Linked DNA regions of Homo sapiens: region 1 is linked to region 2. The links come from fine-mapping of genetic effects on gene expression. Tissue or cell type: thyroid. Region 2 holds a variant in brackets; the other region holds the start of a gene. All regions are shown on one strand. Distances are between the middles of the regions.

Region 1 (16,513 bases), 98 kb before region 2:
TTTACTCATTCTACTCAAACATGTATTTATTATATATTTACTTATATACTCTCATGAAGGTAACTTCTTTGGAGAGAATCAAAATAAATACTACCTGGGTTATCCTTGAGCATCAAATTTTATATTAAAAATGGTGAGTGCCACTAGTATTCAGAGTAGAGGGAAGTGATTTGTAGTTGTTTAGTCAGACCGATTTTCAGTTTCTAACATTCAAATGAATCAAGGGATTTAAAATAATTAGTCACAGGGAAAAACAGAATGATAGCTGCGCTCAAGGAAAGCTGGAAGAGTTTGGCTGGTCCTTGCATGATGGAAAGGATCTGGGGTGAGGAGAGAAGAAAGGAGGACTCCATATAAAGAAACATCATGGCCATTCCAGATTCCCATCACCTCTCCCTTCACACAAGCTACTGCATGTGGCATGTGTTATCGGGCATGTGAGAAAGCACAGGAAACACGGCAGGAGGATCATCACGTCTATTTCAAGTATGAGAACTTCTTTTCAATGTAAATCGTTTGAGAGACCTCCCACAACAGAAGTTGTGCTTTTAGACTATTTTGCACTAAGAAAATTGAAAAATCACAAAAAAGACTGTGTTCAATAACATTTTTAAATGACTATGGATATACATTTAAATATAGTCATCAACATATTGTCAATTTGAAGCCAAAAACCCAACAATATTTAATATTTATATGGGATCTTCTTTCTTTCTTTCTTTATTGAAGAGATGGGGGTCTTGCTATGTTGTCTAGGCTGGAGTACAGTGGCTATTCACAGGTGCAATCATAGTACATTATAACCTTGAACTCCTGGCCTCAAGTGATCTTCCTGCCTTAGCCTCCCGAGTACCTGGGACTACAGGTGTATGCCACTATGCTCAGCCAAAATTTATATGGATTGTGAGTCTACAAAATACCACTGGATTAGGTTTCAATGGAAGTGAGAGCTAGCTCGATGGAATGTCAAATGGCTGTGGGCAAGAATTGGCCTGTATGTATTAATAGTTAGCAGTAACCAGGTTTCCCTCCAGTCTGGATCCCATGGGCAATTCTAGTGGGAGAAAATGTACTCCAAAGTGACAAGTCTTAAAAAATGTAGACAAAGGCTGTTAGCAGCTCCTTTTTCCTACAGTTTAGTGACAGAATATTTTTATATGTATCTATGTCTATAGCCATAGCTACCTATGGTAAATTAGAAGGCTTCAGTAGAAGAGCACCAAAACACTTCACAGCCATAAATGCAGGGAAGTACACACTTGGTAGCCCCTCTCTCTGGGAACTCTCTCCAAAACAGGCTGAAAGTATTTCACCTTGGTTTAAACTCACCTGAATTTTATCTGAACAGCAGTAGTCGGCGGATATCCTGCCTGAACCAGGATGTCTACATTAGCACCACTTCCTGTGCTAGAGGTGACAGAAGGTAGACGATGTCATGGCTCAGCTGGCATGCCAAATTTCAAGGGAACAGTGGGGACAGGAAGCAGGCTAGGACTGGGCTAGAACAAATGACCTAATGAAGGATTAATTCTGTAGTGGATAGTCAGCCACTCAAATTACATTGCTTGGGAGAGGTGTGGAGAACTGAGATTTGATCCTGCCAACAATGACAGACAAGGAGAATTTATTTGTCAAGTGGAACCGGGCACTACAAGTCTCAGGCGGAAATGATGCACTGTCAGGAGAGGAGCTGTGCCTTAGGTCCAAGGGTTTGTCACACTGAGATTGAATCAGAGACAGAATAGAAAGAAAGGGGTCTTGCTCCTGGAGAGAAGTTCTTGGCAAGGGCGAGGCTGACTGCCAAGGTCATAGCTAAAATTTTCCCAGGCCAGACATTAAATCCAGTACTGAAAGTGCAAATTGAAAACTCAATAAAATCCTAGTCCTACGAAATGGTAAATATGACAGGAGTTAGAGAAACTGAGGTGAGGGGGGCATGAGAATTGCTAGAGCTCACTAGGGTTAGGACAGACTCTGCACTGGTTGTGGAATCAGAAGGGCCAGGCTCCTGAGTCCCATGCAGAGCAGGCTTGGAAAGGCAAGGTCTCAAAGCCCACAAGGCATCTGCCAGCTACTGTTTATCAAATTGGTTTTTGTTTTTTGTTTTTAATTTTTGGCCACCATTGTTTTTCTCAAAGTGTTCATATTCCGGATGGCTTCAGGATGAACTGGCACAATTGGTGAGAAGCTGGCAGGGGCTCAGAATATTCCTTCTGTTGACTTCCTGTCATCACTACTGGACCCTAGGTCTGTGTCAATGTGGCAAGCTGCAGCTGCAGCCTCAGCAGAGGAAGCTAAGAAGGTGCACGTCAGCCAGAGTCCTTGGCCTTCAGGAGGGGATGAGCGGGAAGTTCCAACAGGTGGGAGAATGCAGATCGCCAGCCTAAAAGAGAGAGCCTGCCAGAGGCTGGGGAATCTGCAAGCTGCCAAAACTTCTGGATAGAAAACAACACACAGAGGCCAAAAACTGAGCCAGAGGGCCACTACATACTGGCGCTCAGTGCTGTCCATCATGGTGTACTGAGGGGGCTCTGGGTTCCAATCAAGCACTGCATTTCAGAGTTTGTTCAAAAAGCACATCCACATGCACTGGATTCTCAAAACCAATCCATGGTATGGACAGGGCAACTACTATGGTCTTCAAGTGTACAGTGGGGAATGAAATGTTTGAGGTCACACAGTTATCACATAAGCCACATTATGGTTTAATATTTTCAATTGCTTCACCAAACCAAAATTACTATTATGATGATGATTATGTAGAGACAGAGTCTCAGACTCTCGTACAGGCTGGAGAGCAGTGGCATGATCCTGACTCACTGCAGTCTCGAACTTCTGCATTCAAGCTATCTTCCCACTGCATCTTCCTTAGTAGCTAGGAATACAGGTGCACGCCACCATGCCTGGCTAAGTTTTTACACTTTTTGTAGAGATGGGGTCTGGCTATGTTGCCTAGGCTGATCTTGATTTCCTTGCCTCATGTAATCCTCCTGCCTTGGCCTCCCAAACTGCTGCCATTACTGGCATGAGCCACTGTGCCCAGACCAAAATTATTTTTATTTCTTGCATTGAAGACAACACTAATGGAGATCTATACTGTCTGGGGCATGCAACTGCTAGGGAAGGTAGCAGGCTAACAGAGCTCTCCAGGTGCTAGTTCACTGATGAAAAGGGAAGCCTTTCATGAGGCAGAGAATTGCTTGAACCTGGGAGGCGGAGGTTGCAGTGAGTCAAGATCATGCCACTGCACTCTAACCTGGGCGACAGAGTGAGACTCCATCTCAAAAAAAAAAAAAAAAAGTGAGGGAAGCCTTTCATACCTGCACACCCTCTCCGTGGAGGGTGGGCAGAGGGAGCAATGCAGTGATGAGTGATTTGAAGAAATACTCTGCTTAGCATTTGATCTGAACAAAGATATATTCCCTAATGGAGAAGATAGGGCCTTTCAGACACCAGAAACTAACTTCTAATTTAACTGATTTTGCCTCCTGTCATATACATTAGATTATCTCTTCATAAAATTAAAACTTTCCATTGATGTTGAAATTTTATTCCAAAGTTCTGAAAGGCTAGTAATTTTTCAGAACAGGGCTTCTGCTGGACTTGCTGAACTTTATAGATGAAAAATATATTGCATCTAGGAAAACACTATATTAAACAATTAAGCATAAAGGCACATTTTATTATGCTGATTAACTTTTAAAAGTAAACGTGGTAGAGGGATTTGATTACAATTTTATTAAGCTCATAGATACCTTTTACAATAGTCTTATGTAAGGAGAATACATTTTAAATTCACAAACATAAAAGACAACATCTCTAGTTACTCACTGATCCTCCAAAATCACACTGTGAGAATAATGCTATTAGTCATCATATGATATAAAATCAGGTTCCATAAGTGAAGGACAGATACACTTCTCTGCATACTGATCAGTCTCCATCTTCATATGATTCACGGTTCATTCATCTCCTATCTAAAGTGCCACTACACCACAGCTGTTCCCAGTATAAACTTCCCGGCACTGCAAACAAGACCCAATTTCTTAATAGTCACACTGGAATCGTCCAGGCCATTTAGCAGTAAGCAACTGAGCTTGCCAATGTTAACAAAGTTATTAGGCAAGAACAATATGTTGGCTGGGAAAATGACAGAGATTTTAACTAAAAATCTGAAAATATGTATTACTTTATAATTTACAAATACATAAGGCAACTTTGCTTTTAACCATATCGTTTAACTTTCTGTCTATTCAATTTACAAGTGTGAATCTAAGAAATTCTATGTCTGCCAATTTCACATTTTTTCCATGCCCTCTTTCAACAGGTTGCCTGCAATTAAAGGCTAAAATATCATTAAAAGAACTTCACATTTTTACATACTCTAATTTATAACAAATTTTCTTTGTTAAGAAATTAAATCATTTGTCTTTATAAGGAAAAAATGAGAAGGTACACTCTAAAGAACTTTTACACATGCCTAAATAATCTTCAGAAGTAAATAATACTTTTGAAGTGACATTTTACTTCCCCCTACCCCAGAATAAAAGTAGGGTACTGAATATTCATCATAGATTTCTCTAAATTTTAAAGCAAACTTTCCTAAATAAGCTTAAATGTAGGTTTAATACAGAACTACTCATTATAACACTTGTTCTTTCTTTAAAACTTGACCAATTCCACATTTGCTCCTTTTCCCAAATTACATTTTTCCCTTACAATAATTTTCCACACAGAAAATTTATAAAGATTTTTCAAAGTCTACTTTTTATCTCATTTTCTTTTTCAACTGTCATGTTCATTCGATTAATGACGCAACGTTATTTAAAAAACAATATTTCGACATTGCTATTTTCGTGCTACATTCGATCTCATAATACCCCCCAACCTAGAGAAACATTCTAAATCCGACCGGCAATGTCATTATTTTTAAATTAGTAATTAAGCGAACGTTATATTTCCATATGGAAACCACTACAAAAATAACGTGCTTTCTAGCCCAACAATAGCTAATTATGTATTAAGCTAATTGAGACAAACCATGTAAACAAAATCTAAAGATAGACTATTCGGCGGTAGAAGCTATGATGTAAACCACATTTCTGTGGCATGTTGGAATGCACACTGAAGAAGCAGGCATGTTCCTTGCACATGTATACTTCGGGATATCAGCTCTTATAACAAGAGGGTGCACTCAACACCTCGTCTATCCCACAATATTTGGAACAGAAATACCTTAGTTTTTTATTAACGTGCTACCACTACAATACGCTTATATGCAGGTATCTGCTCTAGGTTTAGTTTTCCCCTTTCTGAACTATATGTTCATAGTCTCTCTTAAGTAAATACATGGGCATTGTTTTAAACACAGGAAATAATGATGAATGGTTCATGCGATATAACGATCTCACAATATGAAATTATCTGGACTATATAATCACTGCACCCAGTTAAAAATTATTTTTCAAATAGTAACCTACAAAGGTCAAAATGGGGGGAGGGGACAGGTTATCTGTCTTGGAACTCAGAGGGCAAGAGAGAAAGGAAAAGTCTGTGCAAAGCATATGGTGAAATAACCAGTGTTCTTAACCACACATCGCTTTGATAAATACATTTTTGTCCTAAAGAGGGCCGCCCTTTCACATTGCAAACACGGACACTGGCGGGGATCGAGGGGACATATCCTTGCAGCCTTTGGACAGGTTCCAGTAACACTTGCAGACAAATGAAGGTTTGCATTCTTGAAACCTATCCATATGGATGCAGTTCCCAAATCCCTGCTGCCTCTACCACTTCCAAATGCGTGCAAGGAGAGTCGGACACACGCACAAGCATGCAGAACAGGATCTCAATTCCAGCACGCACACCGCGAAGTAGACAAGTGAATTCTGCTGCTGGAGTCAACTGTCCGCCCGCCCCCGCCGTTTAAAAACACGCAAAAATTAACCTCGCTATTAGGAGGCTATGCTGAGGAAGTGTTCCAAAGAGGAGAACCGGTGCAGTCCAGCGGCCGCTGCCTCGCGAGTGCAGACTCTCCCCGGGTCAGTAAAGATGCGCACTAGGCTAGGTACCTTCGCCCAAGTGTTACTCGAAGTGCCAAATTTGCCTTCTCGCCCCCTGAAATGCAATCCGAACTTGCGGCCCCACTGCGAGGTTGGCGGGTGCCAGCTTTAGCCTTCTTAGAAATGACAGGAAACCAAATGGGGAGATGGGAGACAAACGCTCAACACACGAGTGCGCTCACAAACACACCCGGAGCCCAGTAGCTCCTCATGCTCGGGCACTTTGGAGCCTCAGATCCGGCAGTGGCGAAGAGAGAATCGAAGCGAGGGAGAGCGGGGTGGGACGTCCCCGACTCTCTCCCGGCCACCGCTCGCATGATTCCCGTCCCTTTCGGGGCACTTGAGTGCCAGCGGGCGTTCCCCACCCTCAGTCCCAGAACTCCAACTCCGCACCAGATCGCGCTGTCGGAATTCAAGTGCCCCCATCTTCCCCAAATCAACAGCCTCTCTCGTCCCTACCCAGCCCCTTCTTTGGACTCCAAACACAAGACCTCTCCTACCCGCGCCGAAAACTTTTTCCTCCTTTCGCAACGAGATAAGGCAAGAAACCAGGTCAGCCGCTACCGCCACCCGCTCTGCCCAGCGCCTGGGTGGCGGGCGCCGTCCCTACCTGGCAGCTGCGCTCCAGGTGGCTGTCCCACGCCGGTCTCCGCGCCTGCCCGGTGCGCGGGTGGCGTCCGCTCCACCTTCCCTTCGTCTCCTCCGGCTCCGCGTTCAGGGAGCGACTGTCCTTAAGATCGTGCCCCCCTGCCCGGAGCCGCCCTTCAGTTCATCGCCCGTCTTCCCAGAAGCGCTGCTGCGGCCCCGGCGGACTGATGAGGAGCCTGGAGATCCGCGATGGCACCGATGGCCCCGCGGTGTGCGCTCCGGGGTCTGAGAGCGCTCCGCCCGCGGGCAGCTGCGGCCGCGCGTCACATGCCGCCTCCGGGCAGCGGCCGCGGCACCTGCCCAAGCGGCAGCGCTCCCGGCTCGGCAGTGCCGCCCCCGCGCCCTGTGCTCCCCTGCACGCTCCGGCCCTTTCTGTTCACGCCCTTTTCCCTCTGTCTCCCGCCTCACTTTTTCTCTTCTTTCCGTCTCCTTCTTTATCGTGTATTCCCTTTCTCCAAAAGCAGAGAGAAGGCGCTCCAAGGGGGAGGAGAGGTCTTTTCCTCCCCACGAACTCTTCCTCTGCCTGGTGGTGGCGGTCGTGGCTACTGCTGGCCGCTCCTCCTCTCCTTCCTCCTCGCGTTCCTCCTGCTCCTCCTCCTCCCCGGACTGAGAGAGCTGGTGTAATGCACAGGCTGCGTGCTTGAGACCAAAACCTGCCCGGCTTCTGAGCATGCCCAGTTGCCCTGCCGGCGCCTAGCTCCATTCCCGCGTGCCCGCTGGGCTCCGCGTTCTCCGCCTGGCAGGGGGCGAGGAGATCCCAGGGTACTCCTGGGGTGGGTTGGCTGAAAGCGGAACACCAAGCAGGAGAGAGGGGGGCCTCACCCACCCAGCATGGCCTCACCTGTTCCCAAATTGTGCCTCCCGCGGCGCTTCAAAGATAGATTTTGCCGGTCTGTTAGTTTTGTTGTGTTCGCTTTTAAATTGGTTTCCCTGGACTGCTTAGAAGGACTGGAAGGAATTCGATTCCTTGGGCACAACTTATCGATGAGTGAACTTCAGCTCAGTTACAATATACGACTCCATGGCAAACCTTTCTCTAAGGAACAGTCTGATGCATCTACTTTTTGACATTTAGTGAGTCTGTTTCTGCAGAGCAGTGTAATAGAGGACGACTTGACTTTTCCCTCCCTGGACAGTTACACCTTGGGAGAAAATAAGACAAGCATCCATGAAGAAGACACTGACGTGCACGCGCGCGCGCGCGCGCGTACACACACACACACACACACACACACACACACACACACACACACTTTTTTAAATCAGAAAATAAAATGAAAGATATAACATTGCTAGCCAGTCTTTTAAAGCTCAAGAGGAATGAAAATCTAAGAAAGAAAGAAAGAAAGAAAGAAAGAAAGAAAGAAAGAAAGAGAGAGAGACAGAAAAGGTTATTATGTACTACTGCCAGCTAACTATGTAAGGAAAAAGTGGAGAGATACCAAATTTGAAAAGATACCAATGAGGCTGTCCCACGGCACTCTCGAGGTTTTGTTTAAAAAGCACATAAGGAAAGATAACAGAGGAATCTCACAAGAAAGGACAAGCATAACAATGATAACTGAAAAAGAAGAAAAGAAAGAAAAAGGAAGGAAGGAGGAAGATAAAAAGAAGAAAAAAGCAAGAAATTGAAGCATAGTATGAAATGAAATATTTAACAATATTAAAGGCAGCAAATGATTTTAATTCTATTTGGAACAAGAAGATAAATAGGAAAAGATAGAGCTCTTTGAAAAATTAAGTAATTCTAAGAGATTAGAGAAACACCAGTATATGAATTCCTTTCTGAACCTATATTCTTCTCTAGGTAGAACAATCTTTAGGAGAGAAGAGACTAAACTTTGCGTAGAAAAGATTGAGATCATGCTGGGAAAATAGCTAGTGAGAAAGCATGTGGCTACTTAAATTAATTAAAATATCTAGGCTTAGGTAAATTGCATCCAGGATACTAGAATAGTAATAATAATAACAATATTGTAGCCTTTTTATTGGGATACCTCTCAGAAGAAAATATAACAGTTACTTTCAGATACTTCTTTAATCTTTAAAACAATCAAATGAGTATTTTATCCTTGTGTACTAAAGGAGAAAGGAATTTAAAGGAATAATTTAATTGTCCATTATATAGCTAGTAAGAGGAACATGAATTCGGATTTAATATCTTTCCCATTACATAGAATTGTTATTTGCCTGTGGAAACAGGAGTAGCTTTGATAATATTGATCCATAAAGAACAGGCAAGGACCAAAAGAATGGACAAGTAGTGATTATGTAGTTTTCAGAGAAAGACAAAAGTTATTAATTTTTAATGAAAATATTCTGGTATGTATACAATGGTTAAGTTTGAGACTGGCCTCTGGCAATGTTCTGGAGAAGATACTGAAATAAATCATTTGTGACTAGTGAGAAAAGAAAAGGAAGCAACTACAATTTAGTAAAATAAATCATACCAGATTAAATTCATTTCCACTTGTAAATAGTCACTAAACTCATAATACAGTATTTCCTGATTTCAGCTAACCTTCCCATTATCATTATGGACAAGGTAAATGTAGATGGCATGTTTGTATCAAACAAATTACAGTTTAGACAGAGTTGCCTCCAGTTTCTTGGTAAGTGGATTCATGCTGGGCTTGAATAAGGTATTGGTCCTGACCTTGGTGCCCGATCATTCAGCAGATTTATCAAATTATATTTCAGAGGAAAATATAAATGGGATACTTAATAGATCTGAGAATGAACCAAACTGGAGGCAATGCTTATTTACAAGATGCCAAAAATCAGAAACCAAAGAGTATTTACCTTTGGATTTTCATCTAAAATGAAGGAAATCAGCTAGAACTGGAAAATACTTAGAAATCCTGCATTTTAGGTTTGTTTAAAAAAATACACAAGATAAGCAAAGGATTTATGCAGTTATGAAATGAGACTCTGGTTCTGGACAATTAGCTAATAGCACTCACTTGCCTTTCTACCATAAAATAGCTATAAAACCTGGAAAAACTATATCAAACATTTTTTACTTCTGAACCATAACCAACATAGTGCTGCAATTTGGGGTAACTGGAGGCACATGGAATGAGCCCATTCCCATGGATTATTTTTCCTCAGGGGATATTTTTTTCAGCAGAAGTTTTGGGAGGTTGAGAATAAGCAGAGAGCTGCAGTTTCACTGAGCAGAGGGCATATAGCTCAAGAGCTTGGAGCTATATAAAGTAACTAAGGTTTCTGGAGGTAAGCAAGGTGACAGAGAGGTGAGTACCAAGAGGCAGCACCGGAAGTCTGTGTGGCAATTCCTCTCAGTTCGTTAGCTGAATTGCTAGGCTGCATGTGTCCAGAGGCATTATTCTAGAGACCTGACAGATACAGTGCAGTGGCAGAGAGGCTGAAATTTGAGTGGACATTTTAGAGATCACACAATTCTGAGGAGATGTTGGAGTTCGGTTCCAGTCAGAATGGAAAGACTTTGGTGAACACCTCAGGCATTAGGATGAAACCCTTGAAGGATACTCCTTAGATAGAAGGATGATGTCCTAAGAGAAAGAATAAACTGAAATAGATTTGACTGAACGAAGCAAAAACTAGGCTTCTGTAGGGTTAGGGTGATCTACCAATGATTTAACCACCTGCTAGAACACAACTCAAAGTTTATGAGAGGAAGAAAACATAAGCTAAAATTTCTACAAATGCTGCATGCAATCAAAACTTACCAGACATGCAAAGAAGCAGAAAAGAGTACCTGATGGCAAAAAAAGAAAGAAAGAAAGAGAGAAAGAAAGAAAGAAAGAAAGAAAGAAAGAAAGAAAGAAAGAAAGAAAGAAAATACAGTCAATAGAGCTCAAGAAATGACACAGATTTTGGAACTAATAGGCAAGGGCTTTTAAATAACCATGAACTACCGTGGAGATGGGCAAAATGGATTAAAAAACAGAGCATTTCAGCAGGATATTAGGTTTCATAAAAATAATAAAATGAACTTTGTTGAATTGCTAAATCAAGAAGTAATTACATAGGTTTAAAAACCACCTGGATACTACACAAATAAACTGATGGTCTCATATAGAAATCAATAGAAAATATCCAGAGAGAGCAGAAAGAAGAGAGAGAGAGAGAGAGAGAGAGAGAGAGAGAGAGACTAGCAGAAACAACATTTGAAAAAATCATGGTGAAGAACTCGAAAGGTATTGATATGGTTTGGCTTTGTCCACATCGAAATCTCATCTTGTAGCTCCCATAATTCCCACATGTTGTGGGAGGGAGATAATTGAATCATGTAGGTCTTTCCCGTACTGTTCTCATGACAGTGAATAAGTCTCATGAGATCTGATGGTTTTAATAATGGGAATTTCCCTGCACAAGCTCTCTTCTCTTGTCTGTTGCCATGTGAGATGTGCCCTTTACTTTCCACCATGATTGTGAGGCCTCCCCAGCTACGTGGAAGTAAGTCCAATAAACCTCTTTCTTTTGCAAATTGCCCAGTCTCGGGCATGTTTTTATCAGCAGCATGAAAATGAACTAATACAGATATCAACCAAGAAATTCAAGAAGCTCAATGAACCCCAGGCAAAGAAAACCCCATCTAGGCCTATGAGAGTCAAATTGCTGAAAGACGAAAAAGAAAATTTAAAAACAACCAGAGGTTTAAAAAAATCACCTTTGGGGGAACAATATAAATGAACATTGATTTCAGCAGAAATATCATGGAAGGTAGAAGATAATAAATATATTTCAGGTACAGAAAGAAACAAATAAAAACTATCAAACCAGAATTCTGTGTCCATTGAAAAGAATCGAAAAATGAAAAAGATTTAGACTGACAAAAACTGAGAGACTTCATTGTTAGCTGACTATAAACTACAGAATTTACTCAGGGTTATTCTTCAAGCTGAAGGGACATAGTCTCACATTGAATCACAGAAATGTAAGCAAGAATAAACAGCCCCAGAAAGGGTAAATGATTGAGAATTTATAAAAGACTAACTGTTTGACACATAAAGAATAAGAGTATCTTGTGGGGCTTATACTGTTTATTAAAGTCAAATATAGAATAACAGCCTTAAAAGGATAAATATAAGATCCTTGCGTTTGATAATTTAAGGTAACAGTGTTAAGGATGATGTTTTAAGTGTAACCAATGAAAGAATGACATCAAAACGCACAACAAAAAAGGTAATACAGAAAATAAAATTGAATTATAAACCATACCTGACTGAGGTAAAAGAATGCAGGAAAAGAGGAATTAATGAACAAAGAACAGATAGGGCAAAGAGAAAATGATAATAAGATAGTAAATTTAAAACTCAACTGTGTTATTCATTACATTAAATATAAATGGCTGTGTGTGTGTGTGTAAATTAATAAGCTGATTCTGAAATTTTTATGTATATACGAGGAACCAAGATAAAACATTATTGAAGAATAAAATTGGATGTTTAGACTTACTATCAGATTTCCAAACTTATTATAAGGCTACAGAAATCAAGATATTATGGTATTGTCAGAATGAAAGTAAAATAGACCAATGGAAAATAATAGAAAGTCCAGATATAAACCCACACTTTTATTTTAATCTTAGCAGCCATCAAATCAGTCAATAACAGAGGAAACTAATTTATGGTGTTAGAGAGTTACTTGGTTAGAAGAGAGTGAAGAGAGTATTTACAAAAATGGGGAAATAAAAATACATGGGGTGATGGTAATGTTCTATCTTGAGCTAAGTGGTAGTTACTAAAATAAATTGATATGTAAAAATCCATCAAACTGCACACTTAAAATGTGTGTGCATTACTGTGTGTTTATTATACCTCAGATTTTCCAAATTGTATATTGAGTATTAGATACAAAGTACTAGGGCCCAGACATGATGGAGAACTGAAACTTAAGGAACATCAAATTCCTGCTCTCAAGAATGTGGATATCTGGTTTTGCAAAGTTTATTGAACCAAAACTTGGAGTTATTTGTTAGAAAACTTTCTTCCCATTGAGGGACTAAACAGTAAACAGATTACAGGAAGTAATAATGCCTTAGTACTCTATTTTCATTCTTCTGAGTTAACCTACCAGATTTAAGGATAAAGTGATTGATTGAAAAACACTTATTCTTTCATGAATCTCTTTACTTGCTTACTTGAAACCACTCTTTGGACTTTGCTAAATGCCAGATACTAGGTGGTGCTCTAGGGATACTAAGACATCAATCAATAGTTAAAGGATGTAGCTCTCCATAGAAGTCTTAGAAGATGGCCGGGTGCAGTGGCTCACACCTGTAATCCCCACATTTTGGGAGGCTGAGGTGGGTGGATCACCCGAGGTCAGGAGTTCAAGACCAGCCTGGCCAACATGGTAAAACCTCGTCTCTACTAAAAAATACGAAAAATTAGCTGGTTGTGGTGGTGCGTGCTTGTAATCCCAGCTACTCGGGAGGCTGAGGCAGGAGAATCACTTGAATCTGGGAGGCAGAGGTTGCAGTGAGCTGAGATAGTGCCATTGCACTCCAGCCTGGGCAACAGACGGAGACTCTGTCTCCAAAAAAAAAAAAAAAAATCTTAGAGGACAAGAATGGCTCTCTCAAACTTTTGAAGAAAGAATAAATAAATTATGCAGTTCTAGAAGAAGTAATGGGGATATAGGTGCAGCTCATGATGAGGAAGACTTAGCTTAACTTTCATAATGCATCTGTCTGGCCTAAGACGTGGTGAGCTTTTTATGTCTGAAAACATTCCAATATAGAATGATAATAATAATCACTTCTGACCCCCCTTTTTTTTCCTCTCCCTAGACTGTGAAGCAGAAACCCCATATTTTTCTTAGGGAAGTGGCTACGCACTTTGTATTTATATTAACAACTACCTTATCAGGAAATTCATATTGTTGCCCTTTTATGGATGGGGAAACTGGACAAGTGACAGAGCAAAATCCAAACACAGCTGGGGATTTCCCTCTTTTAGATGATGATTTTAAAAGAATGCTGCCAGAGAGATTCTTGCAGTGTTGGAGGACATATATGACCTTTAAGATATTTTCCAGCTCAGAGATGCTATGAATGTATCCTGAGTGCATGGATGGACCTCAGTTTTGCAGATTCTGTAGCTTATACAATTTGGTGGTTTTCTTTAGAAGAAAATAACACATTTATAAATATTAAAATAGGCCCAAGACCTTACAAGGGCATTCATACAAATGAGAGGCTCTGAAGTTTGAGTTTGTTCACTTTCTAGTTAATTATCTCCTGCCTGTTTGTCATAAATGCGTTTAGTAGGGAGCTGCTAATGACAGGTTCCTCCAACAGAGTGTGGAAGAAGGAGATGACAGCTGGCTTCCCCTCTGGGACAGCCTCAGAGCTAGTGGGGAAACTATGTTAGCAGAGTGATGCAGTGACCAAGAAAATAGCACTAGGAGAAAGCTGGTCCATGAGCAGCTGGTGAGAAAAGGGGTGGTAATCATGTATGCCCTTTCCTGTTTTATTTTTTATTGGGTTTCCTTTTGCCTCTCAATTCCTTCTGACAATACAAAATGTTGGTTGGAACATGGAGCACCTGGAAGTCTGGTTCATTTTCTCTCAGTCTCTTGATGTTCTCTCGGGTTCACTGCCTATTGTTCTCAGTTCTACACTTGAGCAATCTCCTCAATAGCTAAAGCTTCCACAATGCAGATTTTGTGATGACAAATTCAGCATCACCCAGCAGAACTTAGGTTTTTTTCTGTCCTCCGTTTCCTGACCTTTTTCTTCTGAGTGCTTTATGTCACCTCGTGAACCATCCTTTCCTTAGTCATCTACCTAGCAGTCCTGATTCTTTTGACTTGTCTCCCTACACCACAATAAATCACTAATTACTATGGATTCAATCCCTAAAATTTGCACAAACTTGCAAATAGATTACGGGTTGAAACTTAGAGATTTCAAACTTGAGAAAAAAGTTTAAATCAAGAAAAATGACCTTTACCTTGAGAGTAGAGGCAATGTCATTTCCAGGAATAATTATAATAATATTGTGTTTAATATTTGTATGTAACATTTGAATACCTTCAATGTTCTTATTTGTGTTATTTTAATCTCTTGATGTTACTAACTCATTTGGTAGGGAAGAAAACATGCTAAAATAGGCATGAGTGTCTTATTAAATGTGACAAGTGAATAGATGGCAGAAGGTGGATTCATATTCAGTTTTCCATCACCCTGGAAATCATGCGGAGATGATTTCTGCTTGCAAATAAAACTAACCCAATGAGGGGAACAGCTGTTCTTAGGTGAAAACAAAACAAACACGCCAAAAACCTTTATTCTCTTTATTATGAATCAAATTTTTCCTCTCAGATAATTGTTTTATTTATTTATTTTTATTATTATTGTTATTATGTCCAGTCTCACTCTGTCGCCTAAGCTGGCATGATCTCCGCCCACTGCAACCTCCGCCTCCCGGGTTCAAGCGATTCTCCTGCCTCAGCCTCCCAAGTAGCTGGGACTACAGGCTGCACCACCATGCCCGGCTAATTTTTCGTATTTTTAGTAGAAACAGGGTTTCATCTTGTTGGCCAGGCTAGTCTCCAACTCCTGACCTCAGGCGATCCGCCTGCCTCGGCCTCCCAAAGTACTGGGATTACAGGCTTGAGCCACTGCGCCTGGCCATTGTTTTATATTATATAAATTTTTAAAACATGTATTGCATTTACTTTGTATTATCTGTGGTACAATTTCAACTCAAGAATTTCCTGCTTACCATCCTACCTAGTTTGTGTGTTCTGGAGAACATGTGCCCACGAACACAAAATAATTTTAACAGTTGCCAAAGGAAGAAATACATAATTTAGAAATTGAATGTACTGATAAAATGCTACATAATTAATTTAAAAAGTTTATATATATTTTCTTGATTATCTGTTGAATTATTAATGCTTGGAATTAAGACTTAATTACATATCATTAACTATGTTGGCTGATGCTCCCAGAGCCATTTACCATGTGGATTGTGCAAAAATGACCTACAGGCTTTCCTAGACAGCGGGAGACTGCATTTTGACCTACAACATAAACTTCTATTACTGTTTCAGTCTCTATTTATATAAAACTTTCTTTTGGTTTTCAGTTTTAGAGTTTTCTTTCCTCCTCATCTTCTTCTTTTCTCTCTCTCTCTTTTTTTATTTTCACTGACAGACATTTTGGGGTTCTGAATTTTCTTTCTCCCTCCCTCCCTCCATCATTCTTATCTTTCTTCCTTTCTTCCTTCCCTTCTTTTCTTTCCTTCCTTTCCTTCTTTTCTTTCCTTCCTTTCCTTCTTCTCTAGTATTCCAAAATTTTATAAATCAATAATCCTCTCCCCAAAAATTTAATAAATACATAGCAACATTTATTAGCACTGTATATCGTCTGGCACGAGCATTTTATTTGCCTAGTGCACTGCCTCCTGCCTCCTTAGTCGGTCATTGGATTAATTCCTCAATTGCATCCGCTCTTCTCTACTTCTACTTCTACATTTTATTTATTTATTTATTACTTATATGATTACTATTAATTTTGGAGACACAGTCTTGCTCTGTCACCCAGGCTAGAGTGCAGTGGCCCAATCTTGGCTCACTGCAGCCTCCATCTCCTGGGTTCAAGCGATTCTCCTGCCTCAGTCTCCTGAGTAGCTGGGATTATAGGCACCCACTACCATACCTGGCTAATTTTTGTATTTTTAGTAGAGATGGGGTTTCACCCTCTTGACCAGGCTGGTCTCGAACTCCTGACCTCAAGTGATCCGCCCATGTTGGCCTCCCAAAGGGTTGGGATTACAGGCGTGAGCCACCGCACCTGGCCCTACTAC
Region 2 (16,513 bases):
TGCACTAATTCATTCACTTGTTTTATACCTTTCCAATTTCTACAAATACTTCTTGAGTGCCTTCTATGTATCAAGCACTGTTTTAAGTGCTAGGAAAAGTGTGGTAAGTAAAACAGACAAAAACCCCCGCCCTCTGGAGCTTATGTTCTAGGGAGGAGAGAGAACCAATACATTAATTAAATAACTAAAATATATAATGGGCCACATGGTGATATGTTTTACAGAAAGACATAAAGTAGGAAGGAGGTAAAGGTGGTCAGGGGAGTTTCATCTCCCTAGAGACCATCAGGGAGGGCTGTTCTAGGAAGATAACATTTGAGTCAACATTTGGCAGCAGTGAGATAATGAACCATGCGGATAATTGGGAGTAGAATGTTCTAGGCCAAGCTTGTCCAACCCAAGGTCCATGGGCTGTATGTTTCCCAGGACAGCTTTGAATATGGCCCAACTCAAATCCATAAACTTTCTTAAAACATTACGAGATTTTTTTTGTGATTTTTTTTTCTTTTTAGCTCATCAGCTATCATTAGTGTATTCTGTGTGTGGCCCAAGACATTCTTTTTCTTCCACTGTAGCCCAGGGAAGCCAAAAGATTGGACACCCTTGTATCTAGGCAGAAGGAATAGCAAGTATAAAGGATTTTGCCTGGGATATTTGAACAGCAGTGAGGAAGCTCTAGTGTATCAGAGCGATACACAGAGGAAGAGTAAAGGTAATGAGCTGGAGGTGGGGTGTGAAACCCTGAAAGACCCTAGACTTTTGCAATAGGCTTACCTTTTATCCGAGTGTAATGTGAAGCCATGAGCAGATTTTGAATCACAGGCTCACATGACCTGCCATGTTGAGCACAGGCTGAAGAGAGTGAGGGCATCAGTTAGAAGACAGGTTGAGAAGCCTCTATGACAATCCGGGTAAGAGAGAACGGTGGTTTGGGCCAGGGTGGTGACAGTGGAGTAGGTGTGAGCTCTGCATAGATTCTGAAGACAGGGGTCAGAGAACTTGCTAAGGGACTGGCTATATTACAGGAGACAAATGAACAGAGCTGGAAATGACTCCAGGGATTTTAGCCTGAACAACTGCAGGAATGGAATTACCTTTAATGAAATGTGAAAGCCTGTGCTAGGAGAAGGTTTGAGAGAAGAGAAGACTCAGGGCTCATGTTGGGACAGGCTAGGACTGGGACATGCCAGTGGAAATGGCAAGTAGGCAGATAGATGTCAGAGGCTGGGGTTCAGGGAGATGTGTGTGCTGAAGATAAACATTTGGTGTTTTTAAAAATTTTTATTTTTCTTTCTAGTGAAGGGAGTCTCACTCTTGAAAGGAAAAAAAAAGAAATTTGGGGTCTGTCAGCATGCAAATGGTTTGTAAAGCCACGGAACTGGAAGAGATATTAAAGAAAGATGAGAGTGAATAAAATAGAACATACTTAAAGGACTCTCATACCTCATGCAGGACTCTCATACCCAGCAGCATGAATCCAGCAGGGGAGGTTCACCTGGACCAGAGAGAGGCGGATAAGCAGAGACCAGAGCAGTTGTAGAAAAGTTGAGAGCATGTGATGATGTCATGACAGCTAGCTGGACAGAAAGCGTTTCAAAAAACAAGGAGAATCAATCTTGTCAAATGCTGCTGAGAGTTAGAGTAAGATGAAGACTGAGAAGTCAGCATAGGTTTTACCATAAAAAAGAAATGAGGCTTGAGGGTAATTCACAGTCTAGCTGATTCCAACAGGCAAAGTTTTATGACACGGTTATGGGCAAAGTTCCAAGGTAGCACAAAGGAGGTGGACAGCAATTTGGACAGAGGGCAATGGTGAAAAGAGCAGAGAAATTTTGATACGAACTTGTAAGTGTTGACATGAAAAACTGTTATGATCTAAGGCAAACGTTTGAAAATATTGTGCAATAAGTGGCCAGGAATAAATTATTTTTTTTCTTAGAGAAAGTTAGTCTGGAAAATGTTTCTTTCTTTTAGATTTGTTGGCAGTTCTTTCATGAAACACTGTCTTAAATGTTCCAATATACTTGAAAAGGTGGGTAGTCTGCATAACTGCGGGGTGGTCAAGTAGGTTGATAATATTGGCCAATATTTCTATGTTCTTAATGATTTTCTGTCTATTTGTCCTATCAATTATAGAGAAAGGGTTGTTGAAGTTTCCAACTATAATTGTGGATTCTTCTATTTCCTCTTTCAGGTCTATCAGTTTTTGCTTCATGAATGTTGAAGCTCTGTTATTAGGTTCATAAACACGGGACTTTATGTTGTCTTGATGCGTTGACCCCTTTATCGTTTTGAAATGACCTTCTTTATCTCTGTTCATACTCTTTGCTGGGTAATATATGTTGTGTGATATTGCTACAGCCACTCTAGATTATTTTGGATTAGTGTTAACATACTGCATCTTTTTCCATCTTTTATTTTTAACTTTCTGTGTCTTTATATTTAAAATGGATTTTGGATTCTTGTTGGCAGTTAATAGTTGGGTCCTGCTTTCTTCTCCAATCTGAAAATCTCTGTATTTTCATTGGAGTCAGTAGAGCATTTATATGTCATGTGAATTTTGATATACTTGAACTTAAGTATGTCATTCTACTATTTGTTTCCTATTTTTCTCCAGTGTTCATTGTTCAATTTTCCCTCTTTGCTGACATCTTTTGAACTCACTGAGTATTTTTATGGTTCTATTATACGTGCTCCATTGGCTTTTGAACCATAACTCTTTATTGTATTATATTAGTGATTTCTTTTTCTTTAGGGTTTACAGCATACATCTTTAACTTACTCCAGTCTACCATAAAGTGATATGATACCACTTCCCTGTGAACTTTACAAGAATATACTCCTGCTTATCTCTTTCTTCTTTGTGATTTTTTTTGCTTATACATTTTACTTCTGATGAATGTTACAAAACTCACAATTCATTGTTACAATTTTTGCCTTAAACAATCAATTATTATTTAAAGAGATTTAATTAGTGAGAAAAAATTCTATTTATTCACATAGTGACAATTTCTAGTGCTCTTCTTTTCTTGTTGTAAATTTGGATTTCCAGGGGCTGTCACTTTTCTTCTTCCTGAAGGACTTTTCTTTTTTTTTAAATATATCTTACAGTGCAGGTCTGCTACTGCTGAATTATTTCCATTTTCTTGTTCTTAGAAAGTTTTTGTCTTTGCCTTTGGTTTTGAATTTAATTTGGTCAAATGTACATTATTATGTCGGTTGAAATTTTTTCTTTCATTCCTTTTAAGGTTTTGCTTCACCATCTTCTGGTTGGTCTTATTTCTACAAGAAACTACTCTCATGTGTGTTTTTGTTCCTTTGCATATAATTCAGTTTTTTTCTGTTTGCTTTAAGGTTTTCTCTTCATCACTGATCTTAAGCAATTTGGTATAGTTTCCTTCTTTATGTGTGTGTTTTTGGTAGGGGCATAATTTGAATACAGACAAGATGAAAATTTAAAAATGAGAGATTGAATATATTAGAGAGGAACAGAAGAAAAAGGAATCATCCATCATTGAACAGATACTAAGAGAAAAAGACAATTGAGGTCTTAGAGAGTTTTGAATTTAAGAGGGAAAAGAAAGCAGAAGAAAACAATCAATTTATTTAGGACTTTCCTGTGTACATTGCTAATTCAATAACCCATTGGCCTGTGATTACTAAGTGAGCGAAATTAGGTTCAGGGATTTATGTTCAGGTACTGTGTATCTAAATGAAGTATATCTAATAGTCTTTTTACTCCAATCAGTCAAGCACAGGAAGGGATTGAGCTTGAAACTGGATGCTTTCATTTTACACAGAATGAAAGGAAGTAAATGTAAATGAGTACCAAGAGTTTTATGACTGGAGGCAGAAAGAAATCAAAAAGCTCATATCAGATTTTATCTGCAGATGAAGATCCTGCATGTGTATACCTGGGGTCTTGGGGTGATGGATAGAGGATTTTTGATCAGTTATTACAGGAAATAGAAAAGATGACTGACTAGAAATAAATAAAATAATTATGCTTGTTCAACTTCTAAATACATTTAGGAAAAATTTGCTGAGCCCAGTGGCTCACGTCTGTAATCCCAGCACTTTGGGAGGCTGAGGTGGGTGAAGTGCTTGAGCATAAGAGTTCGAGACAAGCCTGGGTAACATGGAAACACCCCATCTCTACAAAAAAATATAAAAATTAGCCAGTTGTGGTGTCACATGTCTGTGGTCCCAGCTACTCTGGAGGCTGAGGCAGGAGGATTGCTTGAGCCTTGGAGTTTGAAATTTCAGTGAGCCAAGCTCACACCACTGCACTGAAGCCCAGGTGACAGAGTGAAGCTGTCTAAAAAAACAAAAAAATAAACAAATAAATAAGAAAAGAAAGAAAGAAAGCACAAGTATAAAAATAAAATAATTAGCACTGTGGACTATAACTGAAAAAATACATGAAAATTATGATTTGTGTATAGTATTTGCCTCTGCACTTCATTGTTGGATATAACTATTTTAGTTTTACCAAGAAATATGGTGGAAGCTTTTGAATTTATTTTAAAATTGCAAATCTTCTGATAAAATAGCAGATATACATCCATTTGGGACTGAAAATACAGGCTTTTTCTTATTTAATGCAATAACTTTTTTCTCAGATATCTCATTTTGAATTTTAGTAAATAAATTATAGTCCAAGAAGAATGAACCTTTTGAAGTATTTTGAAATCAAAAGGCAATTGACTTAAAAATATTTTCTCAAATCTATTTTTAAAAATTGATTTTCCTTCTATTCATGACCAATGATGCTTACAAAAGAAAATTGTTTTATTCAAATGTTTTAAATGAATATTTTAAATAAATTGAGACAGTGAGAATTCCATCTATTTGCGGAAATATACATTTATCCACAAAATAATGGCCTAGAAATGTACTAGAATTGAATGAATGTACTAGAGAAATTCATGATGATCCTTTAGTTTATATTATGAAAGAAAATAAATAAGCAAGCAAGTTTTAAAGTGTTGACTAGGGAATGAAATGTAAGAAATCACTAATGTTCTGTGTAATGTAGTAGGGAAGGAATAGGCAAACAGGGATATAAGTAAAGGCTTTACAGAAGACCTGGCATTTGAGTGCTGCCTCAGAGGATGATTAAGCTTAAATCAGAGTTATTAATAGGAAAAGAAGCTGACACACAATGAAAACAAGTAACACACTTATAAAGTGGTTACAATGTGTCAGGTATTTCCGAAGTACTCTGAATCTAACAGCTGAGGTAGGTACTGTCATTACCATAGTTTCGTAGGTAAGGAAATTGAGGGGAGCTAAGTAACTTGCACAAGTTTTCACAGCTAATAGTGATGAAGATTCACACTGTAACATAAAACATGACAGAATGAATGGATTCTTCTCGAATATTCTCGAAGGTAGAGATTTCAGGTAACTATATATAAAGTCTAAACATAAGCAACAACCTGTGAAGTAAACAGTACTTATTATTCCCAGGTTATATACTATCACATGAGAGACAGAATTGAAACAAGAATTCTAGTTTCAAGCTCTGTATTTGTTCTTTTTCGTTTGAATGTTGACCCATGTACCACTCAGTGGTTATTTAATTTCGCCAACAAATAAATCCTACATTTATTATGTTGTAGATATTCTCCTGGGAACTCAGGATTCAAGGTAGAATGAAATTTACCATTTATGAGGATCAGAGAAATAAATATATTACTACACATAAACTTAAAAAATACAATAATAATTCTGAAAAGGAACATAAAATGAAGCAATAGAGTGTGGCTGGAGCAAATTTAGACTGGATGTCTCAGGCAGGCATCTCCAGGGATGCGATGTTTGCTCTGAGAGATGAATCAGGAGAAGAAGGGATGATACAGACAAACAGAAGAGTCCAAGCAGGAAGAACATGATTTTAAGACTAAGGCAGAAAGCCTAAATGTGATCAAGGTGCAGAAAATGAGCCAGTGTGGCTAGAATTAGGGAAGGGAGGGAGAGTGGAAGGAGGAGAGGAAGCAGAGTTAGTCTCTCAGACCATATGCAACCTGGAGGCCACGGGAAAGCATTCAGTGTTATTTGTAATTCTGATGAGAAAGCTCTGGAAATTAGTCATTAAATGGGCAGTTATAGGTGAGTATTTCCAAAGGCATACATGCTAAGATTTTCATATAATCCATATAAACCACTTTTCCTGAATGCATTCTTCAGAGGCTTTTCTTTCTATAAATAGGAAATTCCAGAGCAATTAATATATCATTATAATCAGCACACAGAAGAAGAAAAACCAAAATGCAGTGGGATCTCCAAGCACTGGGAAAATGTAGAGAATCCATTAGAACAGTCATGTGCAATAATACAGACTTGCATAGTTCTGGAAATTCAGAGTTTAAACTCTAGTATATTGTGTGCACATAGATTCATAAAATCTTAATGTTAGAGCTCTAATGGAACTCAGTGATCATCTCATTTTATAAATGAAGAAATTGGAGCCCAGCCAAGTCACTCACTTGCCCAGGGTCATAAACCTCATTACACAGAGTCAGAATGAAATTATTCCTGTAAGTAAGATGCCAAGGAAGGGAAATAGAATAATCTCTCCTTTTTATTCATTGACTTTGCCAAAGCATTTCATTCTGTACTATAGTAATTCATTGAGGCTGAAGCTGGTATTTTGTACAACTCAATGATTATTTCATCTACAATGCTCCCCTTTTCCCTCTCTTGCCCTGGGGAGGCTGAGCATCTCATTCATTTACCCACTGAAAAGCAGAAATGCTGCTATTATTACTGCTTACATTAGACACTTTTTGTACCTGGGTCATCTTTGCTCGTCCACCTTGTTATTCTATGTTTGGTCTGACCGCCACTATGCAAATGCAACCTCACATACTATGCCTCAGCTGTATCACGTATTTCCTACTTTTTGCCCTGGGAATTCTCTGCTGCTCCCACATAGGTGCCTATAGGGACCTACTCAGGCATTCTGAGGTGAGACAAACCAGGAAGTAAAAAAAAAAAAACCCTTGACCAAAGAGAAAGGAGAGTTGGTGGATAAGTATGCCCTTATTTAATGACTAAGGTGAACAATTCTTTTTTTTTTTTATAGCATTAGGAGATATACCTAATGCTAAATGACGAGTTAATGGGTGCAGCACACCATCATGGCACATGTATACATATGTAACAAACCTGCACGTTGTGCACATGTACCCTAAAACTTAAAGTATAATAAAAAAAAAAGGTGAACTATTCTGAGGGCCATTTTTCATGGCTTGAGAAGTTGCCATTATTAAGTTTCTTTTGTGATTAAGTCATTTCCAAGAGAATGGGAGAGGAATCTGTAAACTGGGACAGTAGAACTAACCATGTCAGAAATGGACTGTCTGAAAAGGGGAGAGAGGTGGCAAAAGATGATCCGTCTTCTGTACTTGGTTCAGGTCAACGCATCGTGTCTCATGTGAGTGTGTCCAACTCAGGCCATATATGGGAGCATAACAGACACATGTCATTTCCTCTCTCAACATCATTTCTAATGTGGCCCCTAAGAGAATGGTATAATCAATGTGTGTTTTCCTTTTTGCATAACAAAGCATCTAATAAAATTTATCATGACATCGTTTGTGGATAAGCATTCAATCTATGAGCTATATGATAGTGCTCAACCAAATTTATAGTAGTTGGAATAAATGCATACTATAAATGTAGTTTAATGATTTAATTCTTTCATTTTAAAAACTAAAATCATATTACGTGCCAGGCAATAGTCTAAACACCGGAGATACAAAAGGGAACAAGACGTTATCTCTGCTCCCAAACTTATCATTGTTTAGTGGTGGACGTAGGTAAACAAACAAAAAAATGACAATTCCATAACAGTTTTAATGAGGAAATGGGAGCACAAAGAAAGAACACTTCAACAATCCTCTGAGTCTCAGGACAGGC[C/T]TCCCGGATGAGCTCAATACTCAACAAGAATGCAGGAATCTTGGAGGCGAGAGAAGGGTGAGGCCCTTCCCAGAAAGAGGGGAAATATTTTGCAAGCCTAAAAGAAATGAAGAAGAAACAATCAGATTATGTTTGTAGGGAGCTGTAATCATACTAGTGTCATTGGGGTGTAAATTTTGAAGAAAAGATGAGTTGAGAGGTGAGGCTAGAGAGACAGGCAGAAAAGAGATAAAAGTAAATGGGAGTGAAAGAATGATTAAGAGCAGAGCAGGGGAGAAAGAAAGGCTTTAATTTAAATGCAAAAATGAGTTCTTCGTAACATGGGCAATGGGAAGCTAAGCCATTGACAGATTTTTGAAAGGAAGAGTGGATGTAATAAGATATTAGTTTTAAGATGATCATTCTTATGGTTGTGCATGAGATCAGTTTGAGGAGGGTAAGACTTTTATCTTCATAAGAATAGACTGTGTACAATTTCAAGGGTAAAAGCTAGGGTTGAAGGCTGAATGGGAGATGCCAAGTGGAAAAGCAGAGAGAACAAAGGTAAGGAATTTGAGTGAGAAGGGAAGGATAGAGATTTTATGTCAATTAGATGAAAACTTAGGTGAGAGATAGGAATAAATAATTTTAAGTCATCCTTATGGTTTATAAAATTATATTTTAATTTACAAACTACACAAACACTTTATTGAATAAGTGATCAATGGAGAAAAAGACAAAAAATCACATAAATATTTTACCATCTAAATGTAACTGGTCTAAAAATATTGATCTATTTCAGTCTAACCTAACTTATGCCTATTTTATGTAAATATAATTGTAGTTTTTAAATATTTTTGGATCCTGCATGAAAGTACTATCCATATTGGTACGTAGTATTTATGAGAATAAATAGAAGTGATCATACAGTCAATTGGCTTATGGTGGCATCTAAACTACTTTGGGGATACAGACATGCAACATTTTACTGTTATTTCAATCACTGCTTTCAAGTCTTCTGTGTCAAATCTCCCTTCTTGGCTGGGTCCCAACCACCTTGTTGCCATCTAGTACTGATTCTGTAACTCTTCTCATTTTCTATGTTTGAAATTAGTGAGAAGTGCTTAAAATGGAGGGGCTTGGCATGCTCTGAACAAGTCCTCTCCTTTCTTGGGTTCCCATCCCACCAATCTCAGAGGCTGTGGAGGAGGGACAGGTTTTGAAAAGGCCAAGGCCTCTATGAATGAGTGAGGTCCAGCCCTCTGCTCATTGGTTGTCTTGCTATTCCTCCAATTAATTGTGATGCATTCTGTGTAGCAGCAGGTGCCTGAAGGTCAAGTCCGTAGTATGGGTTCTGGGTCTAGCTCTGTGTTTTTACTTCATTTCTTCTTCTGAATTCTGTTGCTGGATCTCTTTGCCATCTAGGTAGCACTTAGTTGGGTTAAGAAAAAAAAAAGTCAGCAGAAGCTCAACTACATATGTGTCTTTCAATTCAATGAAAAAAATCAAAGGCAGATCCTCAAACTAAATACATCCCAAATATATAAGTTGCTGGCTATGTTGAATACAATCAGTCACAAATTGACCTCTCCAGCTAAATCAGCTTAAAATCTTTGTAAAGAATAGACAAAAATACATTTCTCTCTTCTCTAAGGGGCAGGGGGTTGCCTAATTTGTATTCACACATTGACAATTTTATATGAAAGTCCAAATTGAATGAGACTCCTGGGGAAGACAGCAATGATGTTTTCATTTTGATATTACAGGGTCAAGAGACTTGAACAACTTGCAAGGAAAAAAGATGCCCTAATATTAAGGCTTCATGAAGCCATGCAACATAGTTTGGCTCTGTGACCCCACTCAAATCTCATCTTGTAGCTCCCATAATTCACACATGTTGTGGGAGGGACCTGGTGGGAGATGATTGAATCATGGGGGTGGGGTCTTTCCCATGCTGTTCTTGTGATAATGAATGGGTCTCATGAGATCTGATGGTTTTAAAAAATGGGAGTTTTTCTGCACAAGCTTTTTTTTTTCCTGCTGCCATCTGTGTAAGATGTGATTTGCTACTCCTTGCCTTCTGCCATGATTATAAAGCCTCCCCAGACATGTGGAACTGTAAATCCAATAAACCTCTTTCTTTTGTAAATTGCTCAGCCTCAGGAATGTCTTTATCAGTGGCATGAAAACAGACTAATGCAGCATGGGTAGGGAAGTAATTTTAAGGAGGATAGAGGTGAGATCCTCAGCCCATCTTGTGATTCTGGTTTGTAGATCACAGAGAAGAGATAATAAATTGTGATGACGTACTTAAGTCCTTTCTGGAAGGAAAGTTAGTAATACTTTAGTATTAACAAGCTACCATTGGTTAAACATGCAGCAGGCACTTTACATATATAATCATTAAATTATTCTGCAAGATGGATATCATTTCCATTTTACTGATGATGCTCAGTTAAGTAATTTGTTCAAGACTACAAAACAAACAAGGTCTGTATTTTCCTTTATATGATCCAGTGAAGAAAATATTTTATTTCTGTTACTATTGTATTTGTTATCTAAGTTTTAGTTTCCCCTTACCTACATCTCAAGATCTGTTTAGGGGAGATGATAGATGTGTGCATTCAGAAACGAATGTGTATTCAAAATATTTTGTTTCCGAATGTGTAATATTTATAGTAAACACATTTTCTTCTCTGTCAAAGAGAAGAACAGAAGGTTCAAGTGGCTGAAGGAGAAAGAGGTACAGAGAGTGACCTCCAAGGAAAGTCGATCAGACTGACTTTTAACTGGAACGAGTGGAGAAGGTAAGCTCATAAAGAACTGGAAGTACTGGGAGAAACAGAGGCGCTCCATCTTCCGTGGCCAGGGGCAAAGATGATACAGGTGACACCAGGGCACCAGGCAGGGACAGTCAACAGTTCTAAAGTCTAGCCAATTCCCAGCCACACAGATGCACCCAGACATAGAAACTACACCATAAGCGGGAGCAGAAAGAGGGGCAGAAGAGAATGACAAAAGAATAAAGTTAGTGGATGCTTTTCTTTTTCTGACCTCCTCCATGATGGCTTAACTATTCAAACAGCAAAATTGACATTTCAAAGAAAGAACTAGTGACAGTTTGGTCCAGTCTCCCCAAGGGGTAGTAAAGGAAGAATTGTTTTGCTGAGAGAGTTGAACAAATATTTTGAAATTACAATGAAAAAGAAAAACTAAGGCTTTCAACACATCTGAAAACAGAGCATACCAAAATGAAGGAGTTACTGGCTGATTACTGAATGTGAAAGCAAGCAGTTCACAAATAGACAAAAATTAAGAAAATTTTTGCTGTTAATAAAAAATTATTGTTCCCACATAAGCTTAACAATTGCCTACCTGAAATTTTCCTGACTCTCTGCACATACTTGCATCTCTGAAGATGGGTGTCAATACCTAACTTTTGAGAATATGAAGAGATAATTTTCATAAAATGAGGTAAATCTCTGAGTACAGACTCATACATAAAATCGCCTTCCTACAGCAAAGTCAGAAATTCAAAACATATTTGATTCGTAGTAGAAATGAAATCAATCAAAAGAGCCTATAGGTGACCCTTGAACAACATGGCTTTGAGCTTTGAAGGTTCATTTATATGCAAGTTTTTTTCAATAACCATATTGCAAAATTTTGTGGAGATTTGTGACAATTTGAAAAAAACTCATAGACAAACAGCATAGCCTAGAAATATCTTAAAAATGAAGAATATATTATGTATGTCATGGATGCATAAAATATATGTAGATACTTATCTGTTATGTCATTTACTACCACAAAACATACAGAAATCTATTATAAAAAGTAAAACTTTATGAAAACTTATGCACACAAACACAGACTTGTATATGGCGCCATTTGCAGCAGAGAGAAATGTAGACAAACATAAAGATGCAGTATTAAATCATAACCGCATAAACTTCATTGTAGTGCATCCACTGTAATAATTTGTAGCCATCTCTTGTTGCTAGTGTGGTGAGCTCAAGTGTTGTATCTGCTTAAAACGTTGTGAGTGTCTGCTTAAAACGCCTAGTGAAGCCAATCATCTCTGCGTGAGTAGTTTATCTTTCCAGCAAATTGACTATCACAGTAAAAGTGGTCTCTTATAGTTCTCAGGTATTTTTCATTGTGTTTAGTGCAATATCGTAACCTTGAATAACACCATGGGAGCCATACAAAGTGTGACTAATGATGCTGGAAGTGCTTCCCAAAAGCAGAGAAAAGTCATGACATTATAAGAAAAAGTTGCAGTGCTTGATGGGCACCACGGATTGAGGTCTGCAGCTGTGGTTACCTGCCATTTCAAGATAAATGGATCCCACGTAAGGACCTTTGTAAAAAAGAGAAAAGGAAATTCATGAAGCCATTGCTGCTGCTATGCTAGCAGGTGCAAAAACCTTGCACTGTTTGCGAAATGCATTTTTATCTTGTGTCCAAATGCAGCTTTTATGTGGGTGCAGGATTGCTATAAAAAGGGATACCTATAGACTAATAAGATTTGTGAAAAATTGAAGCCATTATATGACAACTTAAAGCAAAAGGAAGTGAAGGATCTAAAGCTGGGGAATTTAATGCCAGGAAAGGATAACGTGATAATTTTAGAAAAATGTTTGGCTTAAAGAAAAGTCAAGATAACAGGGGAAGCAGCTTCTGCTGACCAAGAGCCAGCAAAGAAGTTCCCAGATGCCATTAAGAAAATCATTGAAGATAAAGGATATCTGCCTGAACAGGTTTTTAACGATAAAAGTTCCTTATTCTGGAAAAAAAAAATGCAAAGGACATTTATTAGTAAAGAAGAAAAGGGAGCACCAGAATTTAAGTCAGAAAGTCATAGGCTCACTCTACTGTTTTCTGCAAATGCAGTCGGGTTTATGATTAGGACTACTCTTATCTGTAAAGCTGCTCACCCCTTGAGACTTCAAGGGGAAAGATAAACCAGCTGCCAGACTTTTTGGTTGTACAAGAAGGCCTGGACAATAAAAATCCTTTTTCTGGGTTAGTTTCACTGATGCTTTCTCCCTGAAGTCCGGAAGTACCATGCCAGTAAGGGATTGCCTTTTGAGGTTCTTTTGATATTGGACAATGCCCCTGGCCAGGCAGAACCCCAACAGTTCAACACTGAAGGTATCAAAGTGGTCTTCTAGTCCCAAATATATCTCTAGTTCAGCTTCTAGATAGGGGGTCATAAAGATTTTAATGCTCATTACACATGATACTCTTTGGGAAGGATTATCAACGTCATGGAAGAGAACTCCAATAAAGAGAGAACATCATAAAAGTCTGGAAGGATTACCCCATTGGAGATGCCACTGTTGCTACAGAAAAAGATGCAAAAGCCATCAAGCCCTACACAATGAATTCCTGCTGGAGAAACTGAGTAACGAGATTTACAACAGCATCAATCAAGGAAATTATTAGAGAGATTGTGGATATGGCAGAAAAAAAAAGTAGATGGAAGGCTTTCAAGATATGGATCTTAGAGAAATTCAAGAGCTAATAGACACCACATCATAGGAATTAACAGAGGTAGACTTGACGGAGATGAGTGCATCTGAACCAGTATCAGACAATGAGGAAGAAGAAATTTAAAAAGCAGTGCCAGGACCGGGCACAGTGGCTCACACCTGTAGTCCCAGCACTTTGGGAAGCCAAGGTGGGTGGATCGCTTGAAGCCAGGAGTTCAAGACCAGCCTAACCAACGTGGCAAAACCCCGTCTCTACTAAAAATACAAAAATTAGTTGGGCGTGGTGGCACATGCCTGTAGTTCCAGCTGCTTTGGAGGCTGAGGCAAGAGAATCACTTGAACCTGGGAGGAGGAGGTTGCAGTGAGCCAGGATCATACCACTGCACTCCAGACTGAGTGACAGAGCAAGACTCTGTCTCAAAAAAAAAAAATTGACAAATTGATATTAGATAATCTGGCAGAAGGGTTTTGATTATTCAAGACTGCTTTTGACTTCTTATGACATGGATCCTTCTAAGATATAGACACTGAAACTAAAGCAAACAATGGAAGAAGGATTGGTACCATATAGAAACATTTTTAGAGAAATGTAAAAGCAGAAAATCAGATAGAAAATACAATATATTTTTGTAAAATTATAGGAACTGTGCCTGACTCTCTTACCTCCCTTCTACCTCCTCTACCTTTCCTGCCTATGCTATCCCTGAGGCAGCAAGACCAACCCTTACTTTTCCTCTTGCTCAGCCTACTCAGTGTAAGGATGATAATGAGGGTGAAGATCTTTATGATGATTCACTTCTACTAATTGAATAGTAAATATATTTTCTCTTCCTTATGAATTTCTTAATCTCATTTCCTTTGCTCTAGCTTACTTTATTGTAAAAATACAAGATATAATACATATAACAAAAAATAAGTGTTAATTAGCTGTTTATATTATTGGTAAGGATTCTGGTTAACAGTAGGCTATTTGTAGTTAAACTCCGGAAGAGTCAAAAATTATACACAGATTTATGACTGTGTGCTGTGTGGGGCCTCCAGTGCTCCTAACCTCTGCATTGTTCAATGTCGACTATATTTGTTTTTTTGGGATTTGTGCAGCTTCATACCAAATTCGACATTAATATTGAAATTAGTGATCATTTTGTTGATAATTTTAATAGTTGCCTTTTTGGTAATTAAAGTTTGGAGGTTTTTATAAGTCAGGATTCCACCAGAGAAACAGAATCAGTAAGAGATTGGTGCACACACACACATACACAAACACACAGATGCATAGATGCAAACATACATAGAGACACATGTGCACATACACACATAAATTTATTTCATAGAATTGACTTATGCGTTTGTGGGGTATGGCAGGAAGAGTCTGAAATTCATAGGGTAGGCCAACAGCCTGGAAAGTCTCAGGTGGGAGCAAACCACTGAGAGGCAGAATTTCCTTTTTGTTGGGGAAACTTCAGTTCTGCTTGTAAGCCCTTTCAAATGATTGGATCAGGCCCACTCACATTATAGAAGACAATCTCCTTATCTAAGTCAACTGACTGTACATGTTAATCACATCTCTGAAACCCCTCACAGCAACACTTTGCATTACTGGCTACTATAGACTCTCTATGTTGGCACTTATCCAAGTTGACCCATCACAGTTGTGCACTCAAATGTACATTTAGAATTTCACTGTCAGTTTCCATAAAAATATAACATTGCCATTGAACCAACAGAAATTCAAGGTGCCTAAAAAATGTATCTTTAAAGGTGTGGGGATAATTACCATATATAGAGGAAAGGCAGTGAGTCATAGTCTAAAATGACATTTCTTCCTATTTTATTTTTATTTGGAAAATTTGGTGCTCCCCAAGTGCATAGGTTTGAAATTGCAGACTCCTCAATTCAAAGTACACCATCTCATTAGTTCATATAAAGATGCTGGCTTTCCATTTCATTTTTCCCTTGTGTATTTTATTTCTCATTGTTCACTGGAAACAACTTCCTTCCTTCCTCCCATTAGACGTATTCTATAAGGTACTTAATATATGCATTATTATATTGGTTATATATGCCTCCTTTAATAAAGAAGTATCATTCATATGCGTATGTATTTTAACATGTATTAAATTATGCTATACATTTTATTCTATTTTATTTTATCACTCAAGGCTATGTATTGAATTTCTATCCAGGATGCTTCATACTGCTACATACTCTTTCATCGTATGCATTCATCCCATTTTCTTTTATCAATTTTTCCAGTTATGGACAGTGTGGCTTCCAGATTATCAATATCACATGCAAAAATTAGAGTCATAGACTTTTGTGTACACGTCTCCTTGCGGATCTTAACAAATATTTTCTGATAAATATACATCCCAGCAATTAAGTCAATCTGTAAGTGTAACTTACCACATGAATAGATTAAAGAAGAAAATATCATATGCTTTGTTAAATACGTGCAGATAAAATCCAATACCTATGACTATTTTAGTTAACAACTCTTGTATGTGATAAATAACTTAGAAATATTATATTTAATATTTGCAAAAGTGTAGCTACAAATAAAATGGACTTATAGTTCCTTTCTTTTAGTCTAACTATTATGGTTTTGATATTATGTTTATAAGCATCTTGTAAAATGGATTGAGTGGATTTGACTTTCTCTGTTCCTTGAAATTTTGGTAGAAGTCATTTGGGTCAGGGGCCTTCGGGGGAGAATGGAAGATGTTTCTCATTAGTCTTATTGCTCAACTATTTAATGCCATGTGCTCCTTTGAGGTTTCTATTTCCATTTGCACAAAACAGTGTCTAATATATTTACATCAATTTTGTCTAGGCAGTTGAGTGTGTATTTGATCAATATTTTCCTCTATGATTCTACTAACCTCCCTTGAATCTATAATTGTCCTTCTCCTCCTTAATGTATTTTGTTTGTTTGCAATTTATTTTTTTTCTTGTTCCATATTGTGAAAACTTTGGATATCTTATTGATCTTTTCAAAGACTCCAGTTGTCAATATATTATCATTGGATTCATTTTCTAATTCTCTAATTTATATATCTTGATCTTATAGTTATTATTTCCTTTAACTTTATTACTAAAGTAGTTGCTAC

Direction of the effects. Positions count from the first base shown, and alleles are read on the strand shown. Sizes are in standard deviations (SD) of each study's normalised expression.
For the expression in thyroid of the gene that starts at base 7,332 in region 1, allele T in region 2 goes with a higher level than allele C (small effect, 0.32 SD a copy in GTEx).

The links.
Region 1: CHRM3 starts here. The variant in region 2 is fine-mapped to the expression of CHRM3 in thyroid (GTEx, PIP 0.97).

What each region holds. Positions count from the first base shown.
Region 1 is chr1:239,377,387-239,393,899 of GRCh38, reverse strand. CHRM3 (cholinergic receptor muscarinic 3) reads right to left here and starts at 7,332. Exons shown (of 7, transcript NM_001375978.1): 1 at 6,673-7,332. RefSeq lists enhancers at 5,609-6,109, 6,110-6,610.
Region 2 is chr1:239,278,946-239,295,458 of GRCh38, reverse strand. No RefSeq gene overlaps it. Among named protein-coding and RNA genes, the nearest start is that of CHRM3, 99 kb to the left of the region's middle. RefSeq lists a silencer at 7,816-8,110. The variant C/T (reference allele first, on the strand shown) is at 7,927.